Regions from separate parts of the Homo sapiens genome. Here region 2 is linked to region 1. Evidence: fine-mapped expression QTL. A gene starts in region 1. The other region holds a variant in brackets. All regions are shown on one strand. Distances are between the middles of the regions.

The links. PIP is the estimated chance that this variant, and not a neighbour inherited with it, causes the effect.
Region 2: its variant is the best candidate, but not a certain one, in a credible set for the expression of NCOA1 in whole blood (INTERVAL, PIP 0.86).

What each region holds. Positions count from the first base shown.
Region 1 is chr2:24,488,314-24,493,689 of GRCh38, forward strand. It overlaps NCOA1 (nuclear receptor coactivator 1), which reads left to right and starts at 2,941. Exons shown (of 23, transcript NM_003743.5): 1 at 2,941-3,289. RefSeq lists silencers at 2,594-2,933, 2,911-3,069, 3,224-3,713.
Region 2 is chr2:24,449,970-24,455,345 of GRCh38, forward strand. All of the region lies in intron 2 of LOC105374329 (a long non-coding RNA gene), which reads left to right. Among named protein-coding and RNA genes, the nearest start is that of NCOA1, 39 kb to the right of the region's middle. The variant T/C (reference allele first, on the strand shown) is at 2,658.

The DNA.
Region 1 (5,376 bases):
CACTAGCCATATATTTTATAGAACTGGAAATCTATTATGCTCTGGAGAAAATCCAACAGGTATGTTCTAGATTTTGCCCGTAGAACTAGGCTGTTTCTAGTCCACCAAAGGATTATATTAATTTATGGAAACAATAGGGTTTGGACTAAAACCAGTTCTATCTGGGCTATAAGAGTTAAATGTTGTCTTACATTTTTATTTATAAATATCTTCAAAGCATTTTCATTTAATTGGAGTTAGTCTTCCTTGTTGATTGGCATTGTATTTTGGGAGTAAATAAATTTTAAATAGCTAAGGTAAATGGATTTTAGAGAGGCTACTTGTACAGTCACGAAGTAAATCTAATGAATCTTTTGGCCCTATATTTAGGGTTGCTCGGGTGGATTAGTAAAATGGGCCTGTTTAGTAAAAGTAGATGGAGTCTGAGAGAAGTTGAGTATGACCAGAGAAAAGATTACCAATTGGAGACATAAAAGGGTGTTATAACTGCTTTGACAAGTGATTATGACTTGTAGAGGAAGGAGAAAAAAGTCAAAGAGTTATTATTTAAGAAACATTACCAGGCGCAGTGGCTCATGACTGTAATCCCAGCACTTTGGGAGGCCGAGGCTGGTGGATAACCTGAGGTCAGGAGTTCAAGACCAGCCTGGCCAACACGGCGAAACCCTGTCTCTACTAAAAATACAAAAAATTAGCCGGGCGTGGTGGCGGGTGCCTGTAATCCCAGCTACTCGGGAGGCTGAGGCAGGAGAATCACTTGAACCCAGGAGGCAGAGGCTGCAGTGAGCTGAGATCGCGCCACTGCACTCCAGCCTGGGCGACAAGAGCGAGACTCTGTTTCAACAACAACAAAAAAGAAACAGTACCATTCTAGAAAAGAACTCTCTCTTTAGCATACATGGATGGTTATGGCAATATAAATTAACACCTAAATAATTTGTCATTCAACAAAATCTTAGCACTGTGTGTCTTGAGGATATTTTAAAGTTAATTACGACCCCGGGCTGCAGAGTGGGAGATTGGAAGAAGGAAATTCAGGAGTTGTTTTGTTAACAGTTGAAGCTGTGGAAATAAACAGTCAACCGAAGCCAGAGGAAAGGAAGGAAAAAAATAAAACCTTGAGGATACCAACATTTTTTATGGCCCCGTAAAAAAGGAGCAGCCCAAGAAAAGTGCAAACGAAGGCAAGTTCAGAAATCAGGTAGAGAGACTCATATTGAAGACAAGGGAGGAGAGTTTCAAAAAGGAGGAGTTAGCAGTATCACGTGCTGTAGAAAGGCCACACGACAGTAGGACTGAAGTGGCCACTAGATTTGGCCTTCAGCACTTACTAGAGTCTAGTGGAGACAGGAGTACCTTGCACAAGTGGCTCATTTGTTGGCACCAGAGGCTAGAACAAGGCACTTTCACACAGTCTGCATTGGACTAGATTGGGAAGTAGGCCCTACATTAGGGGACGAAACTCATGAGTGCCCGGGTATTTTCAGCTATTATTGGGGATAGGGACTCTGCGGGTGGCTAGAGGTACTGCTAAGCCAGAGCTCAGGAGATGCACCTAGGGCCCCAGTAGTAGGTCTCCGATAAGAATCAGGGGAATGAATATATAAATGAATGAATATATGAATGCATGTGGGGGTGTGGTCTAGCGATTACTTTATGAGCGTGACAAGGATAGGAAGAGGATGGTGAAAGCATACAGTAGTACCTGCCTGTGAAAGAAGCTGCCCGTCGACTCAGAGAGCTGCCACGGAGATTGGTGTTTTCAAGGCTGTCAGGTTCCCCAGTTGGGAGAAGGGTGGGAAGGGCTTAAGGATTTACAGAGATTGATTTAGGGGAGAACACACAGGAAGCGAAACAGCAGGAAACGCCGGGAGACAGCAGCAGCAGGACAGGATTGAGGAAGGGTAAGAGTGCGAAATGGGGTAAGAATAAAAGAAAGGAATGGACAGATGTATGCTTTACAAGGCACTTCCACGGCGAGTGACTCATTCATGCTTAGGACAACCCAGGGAGAGACATAGGTATATATTGCATTGCCAGCCTTTGGAATGCGGGATGCGGTCCAGATAAGGCCATCGCAGCTCAGAGAGGCTGTTCAGCCGCTGTTCGATTCCTCTGGTGACAAGAACACTCTACTTTTGGAAGTAGCACTTCTATTAGAGAAGTTAAAAAAAAAAAAAAAAGAAAAGGGAGATAAGAAGAAAGGTGTGGGCCCCTTGAGGGGAAAGATCTGTGAATGACAGACATTTTAGATAATTCATGGAATTGCAGAGCCAGAACGGGTCAGGCAGATCTTTTCATCTGTAAAACGAAGGGGGCAGACGATCTTCCTTTTCTCTTGTCTAATAGCCTGTGAAATCATCTAGGCAACCACCTCCCAATTTTACAGAATAAAAAACGAGGCCCGCGGGATATGTCTCGCTCAAAGTAACAGAACGCCCGAGTGGAGGGACAGGCCCGGAGCCGACTCCGCCCCGTCCGCAGGGCCTCTCGCCGCTCCGACACCTTCCCAGAAAGATAAAGAACAGCGGGAGGCGGCAGGCCCGGCGGCCTAGCTGCGAGCGCCCTGGTGTTCGAGGCCGCTTCCCGGCAGCAGTGGGAGGAACGCCCCGAGGGGAGGGCAGGAGAGGGGCGGGGAGGAGTTGAGACGGGCGGGGAAGAGTTCGGGCCTCCTTTCCCACACTTCGTTAGGACGCCGGCTGGGGCGGGCCGGCAGAGGGCGCGGGGCGGTTCCTCGCTCGGCGGGCCCGGCAGGCCCGGCGGGCTGGGGGCGCGCTGTCCCGGGCGCACTGTCGGAGCTCGCGGGCACCGGGTCGCGGCGGCCCGGGCGGCCGGAGCCGGCAGGGGAAGTGCGGCGGGCGGGCAGGCGGGCGGCCGGGAACGGGCGGGGCGGGGCGGGGCGCGAAGGGGGCGGTGCCGCGAGCGGGGGGCGGTGGCGGCGGCGGCGGTGGCGGCCGAGGAGGAGAACATGGCGGCCGCGGAGAGCGGCTGAAATGCCTGTTCTTCAGGCCGGGCGAGCGGGAGTCTGACGCGATTTGCTGAGCTCTGTCCTCCGACGGCTGCCTCGCGGCCTTGAGGGCCTCCGCCGCCTGTTCGCTGCTGCTCCCTCGAGCGGAGCCTGCGTCAGGTTCCCTCTGCATCCCCCTGCGGGGGGACCCCTGCTCCGGAGGAGGGGGCCGGAGAGCCGCGGCGCCGGGCCCGAGGAGCGGCGGAGGCCGGGGCGGCGCCGCCGCCACGGTCGCGGACGAGTGCGGCGCCGGTGAGCGGGGCCCAGAGGCGGCGGCGGCAGGTGAGTGGCGGGCTGCGGGTGCGGAGCCTCCCGGTGGGTGCAGCTGTCACGAGCCGCGCGGCCGCGGAGGCCCTAGGGGGCGGGGAGCAGCTGGCGCCCCTCCGCCCCCTGCTCTCCTTTCTCCCGCTCCATCCTCCTCCCACTTCCCCGAGTTCCCCTCGCGGCCCGGCGCGGCTGGAGGGGGCGGAGGTCGCAGCTGTCACGGGCACCAGCTGGGGGCTGCTCCCCGCCGGGGGAAATCGCTGCAGCAGCGACTTCTCTCCGCCTCTTTTCCAGTTGCCCTAGTTAGCGCGGAGAGGGCGAGCATCCGCGGAGGGGGTGCGAGCTGCGCGGCCGCCTGCCCGGCGTGGGGAGCGGGCGCCCCGGGCCGCCGCCGAGAGGGGGAGCCGGAAGTCGGCGCGGGCGCCCCTCGGCCCCGACGACGCCGTGACCTTGGCCGGCCCGCTCACCTCTCGGAATCTCGCCTGCCGGGACCGCGAAATGGGGGCGACCGCGGCGTCCCTCTCCGTCGGCGCAGCCCTCGACGGCGCTTGGGTTTGACCCCGGCGCGCTTGCTCGCCCCTTCTCCCGAGAAGGGGTTTCGGAGGTAGACATGGGATGGATACTGGACATGTTCCTGTCGCGGCCCGGGTTTGGTCCCCTTCCTGGGATTCAGCCGAAAGGGCCGAGGAAGGGAAGCAAACATGTTGACGAGGCGATTGGGAGGTGGGGTTGGTTAGTGGGCAGTGACAGAATTCGGGCCGCTCTCTAGTCCCTTGTAAAAGACCTGAAAAAATCGGACACCCAGGGTCTCCAGTCCTTACTACCCAGCTGTGGTGGCTGCTTTTTTATTTTATTTAAAAGCAGTTACCCCCATGGGTAGACACTGCCCAGTCTGACGACGTTAGAGGGAGACGGAGGGGTTGACAATACAGCCTGTGTGTGTGTGACAAGGACAGGCCACGGTGTTGTGTCCGGAGAGTTTCATGGGGAGGAAAACTTTAAGCTGGAGGATCTGTTAGCCTCTCATGCTTGGCCCTCCTCGTTTCTTGTAGAGGTGTTGAACAGGCAGGTGTCCTTGTGCAGAAGGTGACATTTTTTCTTCGGAGACGGTGAGTTTTTAATGTCGAGTGTGATGTTGGTGAGTAAAGGGTTCTTGAGTGAATTGCAGTCCCAGCACCCTCTGTGGATGCCAAGAGGAATCTCTGTGGCGATGATTTGTGAGGGCTGGTGCTTACATTTCAGTGATTAAGAAATCAAGTGTCTGCTTAAAACATTACTGCCGTGAAGCGTAGATTATATGATACAGTTGAGGGATGGATCTCAAGGGTTAAATTTGTTTGAGGTTTGTCTCCTCTTCTGGAATTGGTTGGAGGCTAGTCTCAAAAAAAAAGCAAACAAAACAACAACAATAACAACGAAAGTTGGCCAGAGGGGCCTCCTATGATGTTGTAGGAAGGGGGTCGGATTTCTTCATGTTGAGAATAATGTGAAAAGAAAGTATTTGCTTAGGTCTCTTGGATCTTCAACTAGAAATAGTTTTGGGTTAAAGGTAGCAGTGGGGTTTGATTCAGCTTAACAAATAGGCATTCCTTGAACTATTTGCCATAAATTAGATAAAATGGAAGTGTTTCTGTTTTATCTCCTGTACTTTGTGGAAAGGTCTAATTTGGTTTTGTGAACGAATGTCCGAAATGTTTTATATTTCTTCTTCAGACTCTATGCTTTGGGAACAGTGGGTCACAGAGAGGGTCTGAGTTGGGAATATATGGTTTAGAGAGAAAATAGAGGACTGCTGCTTATAAGAACAGGTGTTTAGTTTGATTTTTGTAGATATTTTCTACTGGTTATTTAACAACATTGAAGTTTGCTTTATAAGGTGCAAAACGTGAATTTTACGTAGCTTACACTTGATCTCTTCCTTATTTCTCTCAGAAAACCTGTAGGATTGTGCCTATTAAATTGCTTTTTGTGTGGTTTAAACCAAGAGAGTATTTTAGATCTGCAGTGGTTTTATTGGAAAAAAAAAAAAAGTGCTTGATGGAGCTAATGGTGATTGTTTCACTTAAACTAGGATTATATAGACAATGCTTCTTCCTGCCTCTTTC
Region 2 (5,376 bases), 38 kb before region 1:
TCAAGTTTGGGTGGCAGAATGAGATCTCATCTCAAAAAAAAAAAAAAAGAGAGAAAATAGCTTGATAAAAAAATGAAGGTGTCAATAATAGATGAATAACTACTAAAACAGGATAAAGGCATTAGATGATATAGAATCGAACTGTGTAGCCAAAAACAGTAAGAAAAGCTACCTATAAAATTCAGGTTTAATGGGCTCTATGGAAGAAATCTCATATTTTCCATTCATTTATTAATGCTCACATTGATCTTTATTTTAACACTTACTGACATTATATTTAGACTTCATATTTTCTTATCTTTATGCTACTTTGTGTGCTTTGAATGTTTATGTGCACCCCCCCATCCCAGAATTCATATTTTGAAACTAATACCCAATGTGAGGGTATTTAGAGATGGGGCCTTTGAGAGGTGATTAGGTCATGAGGGCAGAATGCTCCTGAATGGAATTAATGCCGTTATGAAAAAGGTTTCAGAGAGATCCCCACCCCTTCTGCCATGTGAGGTTACAATGACAAGATGGCCTTTCTATGAGAAAGTGGGTTCTCATCAGATGTAAAATCTGCTAGCACCTTGATCCTGGACTTTCAGCCTCCAGAATTGTGAGCAATAAATTTCTGTTATTTATAAGCCACTCAGTGTATAGTATTTTGTTATAGCTTCTTGAACAGGCTAAGACACTACTGTATAAATGTTCCCCTGGCAGATATTTGATGCTTTTTCTGTGTTCCTTCAGAATTTTGTACCAACTTCTATTATAGCACTGCCTACTTGGGCTGTAAGACAGTTTAGCTCAGTGGCCCAGAGTGGTGACTCTAAAGTCAGACAGATGTGACATAGATTCTTAGCTCTGCCACTTACTAGCTTTGTGACCTCAATCAAATTACCTGACCTATAAGCTTCATTTTCTTGATCTGTCAAATGAGGGTAAGAATAGATAGTCATAAATGCTAAATCAGACAATGCATGTAAAGTGCTTAGTACAGTGTCTGACACATAGTAAACTTCAATTCATCTTTTTTTTTTTAAGAGATGGGGTTTCATCACGTTGCGCAGGCTGGTCTCCAACTCCTGGGTTCAAGAAATCAACCCACCTCAGCCTCCCAAAGTGCTAGATTTACAGGCATGAGCCACTGTACCCAGCCAATTCATCTTTATAGGTGCTTGTCTGCCTTACTGTACTACAGTCTCCATGAAGATGTGGACCATGGTATGTTCTTTTTTTGTACTCAAGTACCTGACATGTAGTAAGTCCTAGTAAGTGTTTGTTGGGTGAATTTGCAGCTCTGTATAATAGTCCTTTTTCTTAACAAAAGGTCATATGCCATGTTGGTTCACTATCTAGGAGACTTTTAAACAGAGAACAGAGAGCCTAGCATGTGCTCATCTGGTAAGGTGTGCTTCAGGGTAAATAGTTATTGATACTTGTAACTCTTTTTAACCTATGATCTAGAAAACTCCATTAGTCTGGCTTTCCCCAAAGTTCTTGTGTCCATTAATTTTTCTGTCCACAAAGTTTTCTACCATCCCCACTGAAGACATGCCTGTGGTTTTCTGGGATGACTAATTATTTTATTTTAAATTCACCTCTAAATCTTTATTCCAGAGCATCCTGTATGCAGTTAAAGTTATTAATATTTTGCATTTGGCACCCCTGAGAAATATCAGCATTCAATTATGGACCACATTCTCCTCTTTTCTCTAGTTGCTCCAATGTTGCATTTCCCATGAAGTTTATTAAGAATTTAAGGAGGGAGGAAAACAACCCAGCTATCTTTCCCTTTGACTGATGGCACTAATTTAAATTTTCCCTTTAAAAGTAATGTGTGGTGATATGGTTTGGCTGTGTCCCCCGCCCAGATCTCATCTTGAATTCCCACGTGTTGTGGGAGGAACCTGGTGGGAGATAATTGAATCATGGGGGCAAGTCTTTTCCCTGCTGTTCCCAGGACAGTGAATAAGTCTCATGAGATCTGATGGTTTTAAAAATGGGAGTTTCCCTGTAGAAACTCTCTATTTGCCTGCTGCCATCCATGTAAGACGTTGACTTGCTCCTCCTTGCCTTCTGCCATAATTGTGAGGCATCCCCAGCCATGTAGAACTGTAAGTCCATTAAACCTCTTTCCTGTATAAATTACCCAGTCTCAGGTATGTCTTTATTAGCAGCTTGAAAACAGACTAATACATGTGAATATATTGGTATAGATATAGGTATTATTATGGCTATACTGGAGACATATATGTAGTTTTTTATATGGATGAAAAAGTCTGGAAAAATACATCTCAACAAGTTAACCGTGGTCATCACTGGGTGGTGATGTTATCGGTGTTTAGTTTTTCTTTCTACTTCTCAAAATAAGGCCTTGATGGGTTGGTTTCTTTTCTGCTTTCACTTTAGCTGTAATAATTCTCCGAGACTATTAACTGTTTTCAAAGTCTATTTTCCCATTCGTTTAGGTAATAGGACCCTTAACTTTTAGCTGAATACAAGATGACCAGAATAAAGACTACATTTTCCAGCCTCCCTTGAAACTAGCAAGAGCCGTGTGTCCCCCTTCTAGTTAATAGGATGCAATTAGAAATGTCACGTGCAATTTGGGGAAAGTGTCCTTGAATGGAAGATGCACTCTCCTTCCTTCCTTTTCTCCTTCTTGCTGA[T/C]GAGGAGGCAGATTTAATGACTAGAAGTTGAGCAACCCTTTTGGACCAGAAGAATAAAAGTCACACCCTAGGGATGGCAAACTGAAAAGCTGGAAGAGGCCTGGGTTCATGACAATTCCGCAGACCTTGCCAAACTGGCCTTAGACTTCTCATCTCCAGATGTTTTACATGAGGGCAACATATACGTTTAAGGAATGATTAATTTGGGTTTTATGTTATAGACAAATCAAATCCTAACTGGTGTGAAATTAGTGTATAATTCATATTTTCCTTTGCTTCAGTAGTGAAGAATTTGTATTATATGCTCTTCCCCAGACACGCTTAACATAATTTCTGTAAGTGAACTGTCAAGCTTTAATTCTTATGCAGTTTTAAGATTGTTAAATCTTGCATATCTCTAGTTCAATGAAAACATTAGCATATGTTTACCAGAACACACATAAAAAAATGTTCATGGCACAATCCATTTGTAATAGCAACAATTTATTAAACCACTGATAAACATGGTTAAATAAATTGTGGTACAGTCCTGCTATTGAGTGTTACACAATGGTGAAAATGAATAGAGTATGATCTCAACATTATTGATCAACCTTAGCAATATAGTATTGAGCTAAAAGAACAAGTCCTAGAAGACAACATATAATACATTCAAAACAAATAAAACTAGTATACTGTTTAGGCCCACGCAAATGTGCAATGAAATTTAAAGAAGAGCAATGTATGATAAAAACAAAATTTAAAAGAATAGTTACTACTGAGAAGAATGTTGGGGTCTGGTATGGGATGGAACAGGTAGGTCGATGTATGTCATGGAGAGTTTTTGGCTTTTGGGTTGAGAGGTGGGGTTATGAGTGGTTTCTTGTATTATTATAACACATACAACGAAAATAAATGAAATGAGGTTTATTTAAAAACCAATGGGCCAGTCATAGCCCTTGATTCATGACACACTATTAATATGAATCAGAACTGTGATTAATCCAGTTTTGTGCTTCTGAAGTTCATAAAACAATCATACCACTTAGGAAGCTGCCTATTATGCAGGCCTGGTTTTATTTCTATAAATCAGGCAACAAGGATGGATGTGTTTCTATTTGTGTACCCAACTGTTTCCCTAACCAGGTTTTTAAAAATAAACTTTTAATTTTAGAATACTTTTAGATTTACAGAAAAGTTGCAAAGATAGGACAGAGTTCCTGTAACAACCCCCACCAACACCACTTCCCCTGCTGTTAACACCTTGCATTACTGTAGTACATTTGTTCCCACTAATGAACCAATGTTGATACATTATCATTACCCCTACCAGATTTCAGGCTTCCTGAGAGCACAGTCCATGCATTTTAGCATTCCCCATTTTGCATCTAGTCAGTATTCTGCATGTGTTGAATTGATGAGGAAATAAACTTTTTAAATGACCAAATTTTCTGCAATAAGAAGCTCCATATTTTATAATAATTTATAATTTGCTTTAAGTAGCTTTAGCTGCTTTGAGATAGAACCCTGAGCTAAGTTGGGTTTAATGTTCTTAAAAGTCATTGTTTCTGAATTATTTACCAACAGTCTCATTAGAATGAGCACGGGAAGCCAAATGCTGAACTGGGTATTTTTTTTTTCCTCCCTAAGTTTCTTTTCTAAATCAGGTCACGGAAAATGGATGCTATTTCTTTAAATAATATAACCAAGCTGATCCCTGGATTACAATTAGGTTACGTAACTTGCTTATGAGCTGCTTTTCATTAAAACTTGCAGTGGGCAATGGGGCTTTACGTTTCAGAGCAAAGCCGGGGAGAACAATCCTGCCGAAAGCCAGAACACATGCGGTGTCAGTGGCAGAGACTGCAAGAATTTCGGCACGAGATTGAGTTCAATGTAGGCGACTCCTTTTCTCTTTAAATCCTTAAAACATCCTTTGTCCTACCAAACTTGCTGGTTCCAAATACGTCTAAAACGTACATGCTGAGTGCCCACCCCATGAGGGAAGATCGCGTGGCCAGTCCCCAGAAGGCTGAGGAATGAGGAGCCCTCCAGGGAGAACATTATCAAGTTTCTGCAGAACCATAGCTCAGTTTTATTTCTTGCAGAACACACATTACTAGGAAACATTTTAAAGATGTGGACTAGGGAGGTAACAAAAACCTAGTTCCAGCCTATAACCATATATTTGCAAATAAGCATTTCATGGGTACGAAAATCAAAGTTTAGGGTGTCAGATCAGGTAGAAAACAAGAGGCATGGTGTCAAAACCCAAAGAAAAGAAGTCTGAAGAGAGTTGGGATGAGGGTTCATCAAAAAATACAAACATCTGTTCTGAAAAATGGAGAGAAAGCCAGCTTTCCCTAGAAAGGAAGTTGTTCGTTGCTGTTATACAGGATACTCACCACAGGATGAGAGACTTTTTTTTTTTTTTTTGAGACAGAGTCTTGCTCTTGTCACCCAGGCTGGAGTGGTGCAGTGCGCAATCTTGGCTCACTGCAACCTCTGCCTCCCGGGTTCAAGCCATTCTCCTGCCTCAGCCTCCTGAGTAGCTGGGATTACAGGCGTGCGCCACCACGCCTGGCTAATTTTTGTATTTTTAGTAGAGATGGGGTTTCACCATGTTGACCAGGCTGGTCTTGAACTCCTGACCTCATGATCCCCCCACCTCGGCCTCCCAAAGTGCTGGGATTACAGGTGTGAGCCACCAAACCTAGCCTTTTTTTTTTTTTGAGACAGA